2 separate regions of the Homo sapiens genome follow, and region 1 is linked to region 2. Evidence: fine-mapped expression QTL. A gene starts in region 2. The other region holds a variant in brackets. All regions are shown on one strand. Distances are between the middles of the regions.

What was found. PIP is the estimated chance that this variant, and not a neighbour inherited with it, causes the effect.
Region 1: its variant is the best candidate, but not a certain one, in a credible set for the expression of LINC02041 in nasal epithelium (TOPMed, PIP 0.52).

What each region holds. Positions count from the first base shown.
Region 1 is chr3:187,379,953-187,385,335 of GRCh38, reverse strand. No RefSeq gene overlaps it. Among named protein-coding and RNA genes, the nearest start is that of RTP4, 14 kb to the right of the region's middle. The variant G/C (reference allele first, on the strand shown) is at 3,023.
Region 2 is chr3:187,444,334-187,449,716 of GRCh38, reverse strand. LINC02041 (long intergenic non-protein coding RNA 2041) reads right to left here and starts at 2,671. Exons shown (of 4, transcript NR_146716.2): 1 at 2,596-2,671; 2 at 1,960-2,109; 3 at 827-867; 4 at 1-466.

The DNA.
Region 1 (5,383 bases), 64 kb after region 2:
ACAATGCCAGCTTTGCAAACCCACCTGAGTCTTTCTAAGTTGCATGTGCTGTTTATCATTCCCATTTAGGGGAATAAATTCCTACAGAATCTTTGAATTTAAGCACTGACAGGACTTTAAATGGCATCTATGCCAACCAAGCACATTCAGTATTTAAGTCCTCTTGCTTAGTACTCAGCCAAAGTGTCACCTAGCCTCACTTGAACACTTCCAATGAGAGTTCCAACTGAGAACCTGTAGGAAGAACTCAGAGAGGCAAAAAGGAAGTCACAGGGCGCCACAGAGCTCAGAGACAGCTGAATATGAGAACTGAGTGAGTGCATGGTGGTGGTACTGTTAGCAGTGGACGAGATCTGAGTTACCCCCAGTTACCCCAAGTTACCAGCAGTGTATCTGTCACAGTCCATAGCAACTTCAGTCCTCGCCTCCTCAAAAGAAATAATTTGACTAAGGGGCATAAAACAGGAAAAGATACCCAGGCAAGTTCCAGATCAGGAATGGAAGTTTATTAAAAAGACTTTAGAAGGGTAAAGGAAGGAAAGAACCCTTGGAAGAGATCCAAGTGGGTGCCTAAAGGTTAAAGAGAGAAAAAAAGGAAGCCGCCTTTAACCAAGGTTCTAGGATTTGATAAGCTCGCCTCTTCCCCATGATTCTTCTCTTAGGGTGTGCTTTCTGCATGCATGGTGCCCTCGTTACCCTTGGGAATTGAGCATGCACAGTGCGTTTAGAGAGTTTATGAGTTTATGAGGCTTTTTTCCCTTTTTCCAGTGGCATGTGCCCCCAGAATGTCATACTTCACCATTTCATCTCTTAACATGCGTGCCCAAGGGGCTTCTCCTTGGGGCCTGCATTCAATTAACATTTTGATGTTAACAGGCGCGGATCCTCAGGAGATGGCCTCTCCCTGGCACTGGCTGTCAATTTATCACTTTTAGAGAGGCAATGCGATAATTGCCAAACTGTCACCCGACATTTCTAGTGGGTGGGGGAAGAGCCCTCTCATGCCCCTCTCATGCCTAACTATCTGTAACAGTAGGGTGGCCAAGGGATCCTGTGGGATGCTGGAAGGAAGAAGGAAAGTATGGAGACCTTGCCTTGGGTTTGGAGAATGTGGGAAGTTTGGGCTTCCTCATGGGGTCAGTGTTTCCATAAGCAGCACTTTAGGAAGGGTAGGTGAGCTGGGCTAACAGGGAGTAGGAGATCCACCTCTTCCCTAAATTTAACTCTTGGACATCTTGGTCTTTCTGGATTGTGTTGCAAGGACAAAAATATTGGGTTGAGCATAATGAGACTTTATCATTATATATCTGCTATCGGTTATCAGTGAAACCATGAACAATTTTTAAAAAATCATCTGAAATTTACATACAGGCCAAAGAGATTATTGGGTAATCTTTCAGTGCTGAACCTAACTTTCTATTTACTGGATTATTTTACTTCACTGTAAAGGAAAGCCTCACTTATAAATTTAGTTCAGTAGACATATAAATAATCTCTGCCCAGTGGAACTAATAGCCCCAAAGTGTACAGTTTATGATCCTATTAAATGTAAACCAGTCTTTATATAGCTTATTACACACCAAGCTATTAAATTGCTTGTATAGACCTAGCTTCTCAAATGTTCTTCGGGGTGGTTCTCAATCTTATTGTTTCCCCGCTAACTAATGAGTTCAATAAAATCTTTGAAACATGTTCACTATTTGTATGAGGCATACTTTTACCTTTTTGAAGATTATACTCTAACCGGAAACTCACTTCTGACTCCAAGGATTTGGTTTTCTTATCTTTTAAAAGATGCATTAGGATTAGAGGGTCTCTAAGAGCCCACTCTGAGATGTCTGAGCCACTAAGCCACCTGGGCCCCGTCTTCTCCACCATCCCAGGGTCTCCAGGGAAAGGCCCTCTTAACTCTCTGGAGCTGAGAATTAGCGACTGCCGATACTGCTTCCTGCCATGGCCCCCCAGAAAAGGTGGTCAAGTCACATTTGGACACTGCAGGCCTTCAGCAACTCTGAGATTCTTTAGAAGTTCTCAGGAGACAGAATACATTGTTTTTCCCCACTTATTCCCATTCCCCAGCCTCTCCCTCCTCCTAACCACTCTCTACTTCCCATTACAAACCTGAAACATTCCTGGTTCTACATACCCAGCTTTTAGTTCAACCCAGAGCCTAAGGCATCACCCCTGAGTGCTCACCTCTTTGACATCCTTAAGTGGAAATCAGCCGTGCCTTTTGGCCTCAGCTGAGGCAGCGGGGGTCAAACAGCTACTCCTCTCACTCCTGCAGAAGGGGTGTAAAATCGCTTCCGGCTCTGCCGTCTGATGAATCTGTCCTTCCGAACCTCCAGAGGCTTCTCTGTCTCTGCCCTTTTGGCCTGAGGTTGTTCAGAGGGCATTATCCTCTAAACTGAAAGTGTCTGAATTCACTGAGGGCGAAAATGTGGTGTGTAGATGGGGCAGAGAACATGAAAGGAGGTTCAGGAAAGGCCAGAGATTACATTTAGCATTCCTGAAAGCCCCTTTTGGCCTTTGGCAACAATTAATGATCAACACATGGAAAAAGCCTTTTCCATTTCAAGGGATGACTGATTTTGTTATCAGCAACTTTTGCTGAGCCTTCCTAGGTCAGATGTCTGTGTGCGTGAGAATAAGCTCAGTGTGTACAGTGTTTATGAAATAAACATTTTTCTGTTTCTGATGCCAAGTTGGCTATCAGGCCTGACTGCTAATACTCATGGCTTGGTCAGGTGCTGATAAATTTCTCTTGGTACCTTTCTTCCTTCTAGTGATGACCCCATCCATTATTTTAGGAGCCAAATTAATTCCCCAGTATGGGGAGGGAGTGATGCTTCCCAGGCTGCCAACCACAGCCTGGGCCCTCACCCCTCCTGTACTATGCAGTTGGATGGGGGGCTCGGAGGAGGGGGTGCTGAAGATTAAGCCCAAATGTCTGATAAATCACATAATATTTATTGGGCTTTGAGTGGTTACACAGGGTGCCACAGAGACAAAATCCCCAAAA[G/C]TTTGGATGTGAATATCCTGAAAATATGAAATGAAGTCAGCCAATCCATGATGTATCTATGTGACACACTGAGAGGGTGTTTTTAAACACCTCCCTCCCGTACACAACAGAGACCTTAGGGACCGTCTGCTTCAGTTTAAAGAAAAGTTTCCCCAAAACGTTGTGGGCATTTGTGTCTCTGAGAAGGAAGAAAGCTGAAGCCAGCTCCAAACAGATTCCACACTTGTTTATAAGTCTTGAGCCTCTGGGACATAATTCTCTCAAAGATCACATCCCCAGCAAGAAAAAAGAGTCAAGAGAGATGGATACCCGGCTAGGGCTAGGGAAGGAGTTGTCCTCTCACTCTTGGCCACTCTTGGAATTTCTTGAAGTAATCAAATCTTGAGCCTGGGGATTTATCCACGGGTTGGAGCGATACTTATATATGTATTATTAAAACTTAACAGTGATCACAGCAATTATTTATAATTTAGATCAACAAAATGTTATTTGGGGGAAGTAATTCATCACTGACATTGTTCAGAATTGGTGGGATATAATGGTAATTTAAAAATTGTTCAGAATTGGTGGGATATAATTGTAATTTAAAAATAAACAACTTTTATGCGTTTTATTATGAATTTAAAATTCTATACAGTGAATGTCCCCTTCATTGCCTAGACCACAGCCCTCCCACTGCCCTTGCCTGGGTATCTACCTCCAGCTAATGAACTTGGGTCTTTAATAAATAATGTTAGTCTAGGGCTGCCTTAACCTTTGCAAAGTAAAAACATCTGTACCGTCTGCATTTCTATAATTGTGATTATATTTATTTATTTATTTATTTATTTATTTATTGAGACAGGGTTTCGCCCAGTCTGGAGTGCAATGGCACAATCTCAGCTTATTACAACCTCTGCCTCTGGGCTCAAATCATTCTACTGCCTCAGCCTCCTGACTAGCTGGGATTATAGGCACATGCCACCACGCTCAGCTAATTTTTGTATGTTTAGTAGAGACAGGGTTTCACTCTGTTGCCCAGATTGATCTCAAACTCCTGAACTCAAGCCATCTGCCCTCTTCAGCCTCCCAAAGTACTGGAATTACTGGTGTTTCTCACTGTGCCTGGCCGTGATTATATTTAAATTGTGGTTGGAAGAGGAGTCAGAGTAAAGAAGAAAAGAGGAGACTAGGTAATATAAAAAGAAAAAGGAGTTTGAGACCAGCCTGACCAACATGGTGAAACCCCATCTCTACTAAAAATACAAAAAAATTAGCCAGGTATGGTGGCTCATGCCAGTAGTCCCAGCTACTTGGGAGGCTGAGGCAGGAGAAAAGCTTGAACCAGCGAGGCGGAGGTTGCAGTAAGCCAAGATTGTGCCACTGCACTCCAGCCTGGACGACAGAGTGAGACTCCGTCTCAAAAAAATAAAAAGAAAAGAAAAAGGGGAGAGAGGCATATCAGAATAAAGAAAATAAACAGGGAGAATGTAGCCAGGAGTGGGGGCTGCACCTGTACTCCCAGATGTTCCAGGAGCTGAGGTGGGAAGATTGCTTGAGCCCAGGAGTTTGAGGCCAGCCTGGACAACATCACAAGACCCTATCTTTGTTTTTTGTTGTTTTGTTTTTTTATTAAGAACAACAACAACAGAAAGGGAGAATGTGACAGGAAGAGATCTTGGAAATCTATTAAGCCATTAGTTTCTTAAAGTGATGTTTTATTTTAATTTTTATCAAAGTCATATGTGGGCATAGCTTAAGAAAAGTAGAGTCATTCTATAATGCTTATGGCAAAAATCAGCCCTTTCTGGCCCCTCCCAGCTTCCATTTCCTCTCCCCAGAAGCAATCATCTTCCTTTCTTTTAGCTTTTTCTTCTAGTATTCAGCTCCTTGTTTCTGTTTCTTGATTTTTCACTTTTTGATATTAATCACTGATTTCCTCCACCAAGATAAGCATTTAATTGTCTTTCACCCTCAGGCTCTAATCAGGCACGCTTCTCTTACCTTCAAATTCTTTTAAATCACATTTTTTGTTAAACCAATATTCAGTCATAATACTTAATGACTATTTGAATATTATTTATAGCTAAGCAGTGTAGAGTACTCTAATTGCATTTATTTTCTAGTACAAGCTCTTGTTTTATCCCTGACGTTAATAGTTGCCTTGGTTTTCATTTTTTTTTTTCTCTGCTTACTTTTCCATGTTTCCATTTAACTCACTCTCAAACTCTGTTAGAAATGTAAACTCCTCTTTAAACATTCAAATGCACCAGGTAACCTCTTGTTTCCTTTTGCTTTTTCCCTTGGGGACATCCCCCCCCGCCCCGCCCATAGCCTTCCATCACATGGCCCCAATCTAGATGGGTTTCTCTCTACGCTGGC
Region 2 (5,383 bases):
TTCCTATCAGTTTTCTATAACTTCATTTCTATCGTATGGGGTTGTAAAATAACCTAGTCAAAGATACGGAGAGAGCTGGGCACAGTGATGTCCTCCTGTAGCCCCAGCTACTCAGGAGGCTAAAGCAGGAAAACTGCTTGAGCCCAGGAGTTCAAGACCAGCCCAGGCAAAAGAGCAAGACTGCCATCTTAAAAGACAAAACACAAGTCAAAGAGAGGCAGAGATAACCTAGGTAGCTGAATGAATCAGGACAGCCGTCAAGTGTCAACATTTTTCACAAATATCCCTTACAGACCCTTTATTGTAAAAATCCAAGATCTAGCCAAAACAGCTTTCTGAATTCTGGCTTCATTACTTGGCTGGGCTCCAGGATATTTACTCAACTATCCTGGTTTTCCAACTAATTTGCTGTGTGGGATAACTTTAGGCAAGTCCTCTTCTCCCAGCCAGGTCTCAGATTCCTTGTCTGAAAAATGAATGCATCAGATCAGTTGATCATTGGCCTTACATGACAAAGCAATGAGAGAGTAGACTGAAAATGCTTTATACAATTGAGTTAGTTAATCTCTCCATGAGGAAATATTTATGTTAGTATTATTTGACCAACTTGAACAGAGAAAGAAACATCATATGGCTCCCCAGTTGTTTTACCTCTTAAATACATTTGTTTAGAAAGACAAACAAAATAAGAATTGTCAGGGAGAGACCATGGAGAGTACTTCTGCATGCTAACGCATAATGTTAATTAATTTTATGTGTCACCTTAGAGGGTGTTGTTGGATGAGACTAACACTTAAATTGATCAATTTTGAGTAAAGCAGATTACCTTTCAGAATGCTGGTGGGCCTCATCCAATCAGTAGATGGCCTGAATGGAAGAAAAACATCAGCCTCACAAGCTAGATAGAATTCTCCAGCAGACTGCCCTCCCAGTGAAAGTCTGGGAACCCTGATTTGTGGGAGGGAGAAAGGCCTGGTTAGTGGCCCCAGTGGCCACAAAGGGCATTCCATGCAGCCTATCAAGGGACCTCAGCTCTAGTTCAGAACCACCACTTCCTACCTGGGCAGGAGTCACATCAACAGACATTCTTGGCTTTCCTGACAAGTGAGCTATGAGGAAGTGTCAGAGAACTTGAGCACTGAATGGAAAGGATGGAGAAAGGATCATGCCCAATCATAAAGCTCCTGAAAGAAGAAACGACCTCCTAAGATAAGGCTTAGTGCCCACTCTTGCTGAGACTCAGAATAAAGATACAGTAGTATCATAGAAAATTCTGTAATATCACTTACTGAGTCCTGCTGATGTGCCAGGAGCTGTGCTAGGTACACTTTACATAAACTGACACACATGATCATCTCTGTGTGATCTGTGTGCTGTGTTTCAACTGTGCTGAAAGCTAGAAGCATCATTCTCATTCAACAGATGAGGAAACTAAGCTCAGTGTAAGAAAATAATTTCCCCTAAATCACCAAGCTCTAGGAAAAGATGTCCCAAGGAAAGAGTATGCCTGAAGACCAAGGGCCATCAAGGCAGAGACTAAGGACACCAGTGAACACCCACAACATGAGCTCGGGCAAAGAGGGAGGGTGGCAAGAGATTAGGAGATGTTCAGGCAGGCAGGCTTGGATGGGGGCCAGCATGTCTACCTGTCCCTCCAAAAAACTCGCTGCCGTTCATTATAAATCAGTGGTCACCAGCAACATGTCACCTCCTCCTAATTAAACCTTATCGTCAGCCAAGGAAGAAGTTATGGTTGGTTAGATAAAGCACTTGTGGGCCCAGCCAGCTAAGAGCAGAGCAGTTTACCAGTTACTGATGGGCTTTAATTTGATAACAATTACATCACTTTTCAGAGAGACTAGGGAGCCACTGATGCAACCTCACATTTCTTGAGGGAGCTCATTGGAGATGCTAAGTGAGGCATGTGATAGGAAATGGATTACAAGAAAGAAGAGTTACCTGAAATATTGACTGTCTTGAAAAACAGTGCAGGTCTGAGTATGAGGTGAGTGAGTTAGAAACTTCCAGCTCTGCCACCTTGAAGCCGTCCATTCTTGAGCAAGCAGCTTACTTTTCTGAGCTTCTGAAAACGGAGATGTTACCATAGGCCTGTGGTGACCACCAAATGAATGTGCAAATGTGAATGGGTTTTTATATATTAAAGTACAGGTCAGCAAACTTTTCCTGCAAAGGTCCAGATGTAAGCAATGTAGGCTTTGTGGGTTAAACAGTCCCTACTGCAACTACTCAACACTGCTGTTGTAGTGTCAAAGCAGCCATAAACAATATACGACACATGGTGCAGGACAGTTCTCCAGGTGGCCTTGAACCAACCCAGCTCTCTCCCCTTCTCACTGTTGTTCCCTGGAATAACTGTAAAATATGCTGAGAATGCAACATCCTGAGACAAGGAGAGACTGGCTGGAACAGGCTGGCTCAGTTCCAGTTTCCACCTGGAAACGGGATGTTCTTCAACACATTTGCCTAGTGTGTCCTTTCATACCCTGGGGAGGGTGTAACACCCAGGGTTGTCTGCTTTTCAGGGTCCCTCAGTAGCAATGCAAGTGGGGCACATGCAGATGAGACCTCATTTACCTGGCAGTTTTTCTGAGTTTGGGGGGAGAAGCTCACAATCAATCCTACACTTCTGTTATCCCTTGCTGTTTATCTGTAAATAATAAATTTGTTTCATGTAATTTGTTATGTTTAAGGATCTTCTGCCTTACCAGACTCAGACAAGTTGGTAACCAGTGCACAGTGAACCTGCTTCACAAATGAGTGTGGCTACGTTCCAATAAAACTTTATTTGTAGATGCCAAAATTTAAATTTTAGGTAATTTTTACACTTCATGAAACATTTTTCTTCTTTTGATCTTTTTTTGACTATTTAAAATACAAAAACATTCTTAGCTTTAGACCATACAAAAAGAAAGTGGGCCAGATTTGGCCACTGGGCCAATTTCTGCCCCAAAGTGGTATGTAAATGTGGAAAACACAATAGAGAAGGGAGTTGTGCAAAGAGATAAATAAGACTACATCTTTCTTATTGAAAAAGCCACTAGTTGCTAAGCATTGTGGTGCTAACATGAAGGAATGAGAAGTCTGGGAAAAGACAGGCCAGTGTAGTCTGCAGCTACTGAGGAAGGGATTCCCAGAAGGTGGGGAATTTGGTTTGAACTGGAAGGTGGAGTGAGATTTCAGTAGGTGAGGCCAAGGTAGAAGGATGGGGATTTAAGAAGGGAAGGGAGAGTGAGGGCACAGAGGAGATAATAGAAGACCTAATGAAAGACAGCCAGACAGAGGAATGAGGTAATCACAGGTGGTGCTGGGACTCCAGCTTGAGGCTCCTGGCTGCCATGCAAGTGTTCATTCCATGTTCCAGCTGCCTGATAAATTGTGTGGACGCATCAGAAAACTTAGAAGTGCCCTGCTCTAGGAGAACTTATCGTCATATTGGGAGATAGAAAGATATTCTGGAGAAAGATATTTTAAAATACCCTAATAATTGACATGAGAGAAACAGTAATGAAATAGTAGTGCTCTTACTGAGCACCTCCTTAATTGAATATTCAGTATTCTGCAGGTATTATCTCACTTGGGACTCAAAATAACCTCTTGAAGAAGGTCTGAGTATTCTCATTATTCCCATTTTATAAATGAGAAAATTGAGAAAAGAGGGGAGAATTTTCCATGAGGCTCAGTGACCAGACTTAACAATGATAAACATTCGCATGTTGTTTCCCAAAGACTCTCAGAGGGGATTGAGAGATCAAGTAATGATCTAAGTACTGTGGTCAGCTGGCCTCCAAGGTAGATGGAAGCCTGTCAGAGGTGGAGCAGCTGGAGTGGTCAGAAGGAGTGGCACAGTGGTGGTCCACATAAGTGACTCAACACCAGCCTGATTGTTTACAGTGGTTGCAGACTTCTTTCATCCATTGGCAAGCCTGGAGTGGCTCATGAGAATGAATACAGATGCCTTGCTGGGAATGGATATTCCAGAAGGAGTCCTAGTAGCAGCAGTATGGGGGTTAGAAATAATTAAATAACATTTTCAGCTCTCCTGAGAGCCATTGGCCTAGAACAAAGAGGCAACTGAGAAGAGGAAGCTGGGAGTTATTTGTGTGTTGTTAATGGGACTTTCATCAACAGACCCCCACCCTTTCACCAGCAGCAGCCGGTCCCTGCAATCTGCAGAGACTGTATTCTCACAAAGCACCCATTCAAGTAACATGAATGCTGGCACAATGCAGCAATCAGACAGGCCCTGGCTTCTCCATGGCGCTACACCTGCACCTGTTATCATGGCAGGAGCTTATTTATCAGCCCTTAGAAACTTACATAATGGAGAAGTTTATCTATCATCAGTTCTCTTTCAGGCCATGGGGATAGAGATATTTATAAGCCAATACTAAAGGCAAACCAGTCTCTTTCTAGAGAACCAGTAAGCCCATGTGAATCTGGGCAGCTACAGGTCTACCATCGATGTTAACATGACGGAGTTCCTTGGACTGTGAACCACCTCTAGCTCTGGGTGTGGGGATAAGGGTGGTATTAGTGGCTGTAGCTGGAATCAGGGGGATGGGAGCTGCAATAGCATCCACCCCACCACTGTTGGTGAGAATGCATGAGCTGGCTTGTCAGGTGCGGAAGGAGACTGAATGCTTTTTTGATTGCTATAATTGCAGCAAATTGGATGCTTGAGAGTGCCTCTTCAATGAGAAGAATCTCATGAATGAGACTTAGGGAAGAGGGCCCTCTTTGGATCCCTCTCCTTTGTCCCATATGTATGAAATAATTCCCCAGCCATTATGGACCGTGAATAAACTGCTAATTTTAGTTGTTCAAGCCGAACAAAGACCCTGGTTGGAAGATCCGGAAGGTGATTCATCCTATATGATGTTTGCATGGTGGAAGCTAAAGGTCTTGATAGGAGTCCCTGATTATTCCAAACTTTCCATACAAAGAGTTAGACAATTTTTTTTTTTTTTTTTTGAGAAGGAGTTTTGCTCTTGTTGCCTAGGCTGGAGTGCAATGGCATGATCTTGGCTCACTGCAACCTCTGACTCCTGGGTTCAAGTGGATTCTCCTGCCTCAGCCTCCCAAGTAGTTGGGATTATAGGCGTGTGCTACCACACCTGGCTAATTTTTGTATTTTTAGTAGAGACAGGGTTTCATCATGTTGGCCAGGCTGGTCTCAGAGAGTTAGATAACTTTTTAATTGGTCATCTCAACACCAGCAACCAAATGGACTCCAGTACCTTCTCTTCTATTTAAGGTTCTCTCTTGGCAATCCTGGGTGCTTTGAGTGTGGGCATTCTCCTCTAAGTTTTCTTAATTGGGAAGACTCAGAAAGGCAGCAGTGAAGCCAGAGTCAATGAAAGAC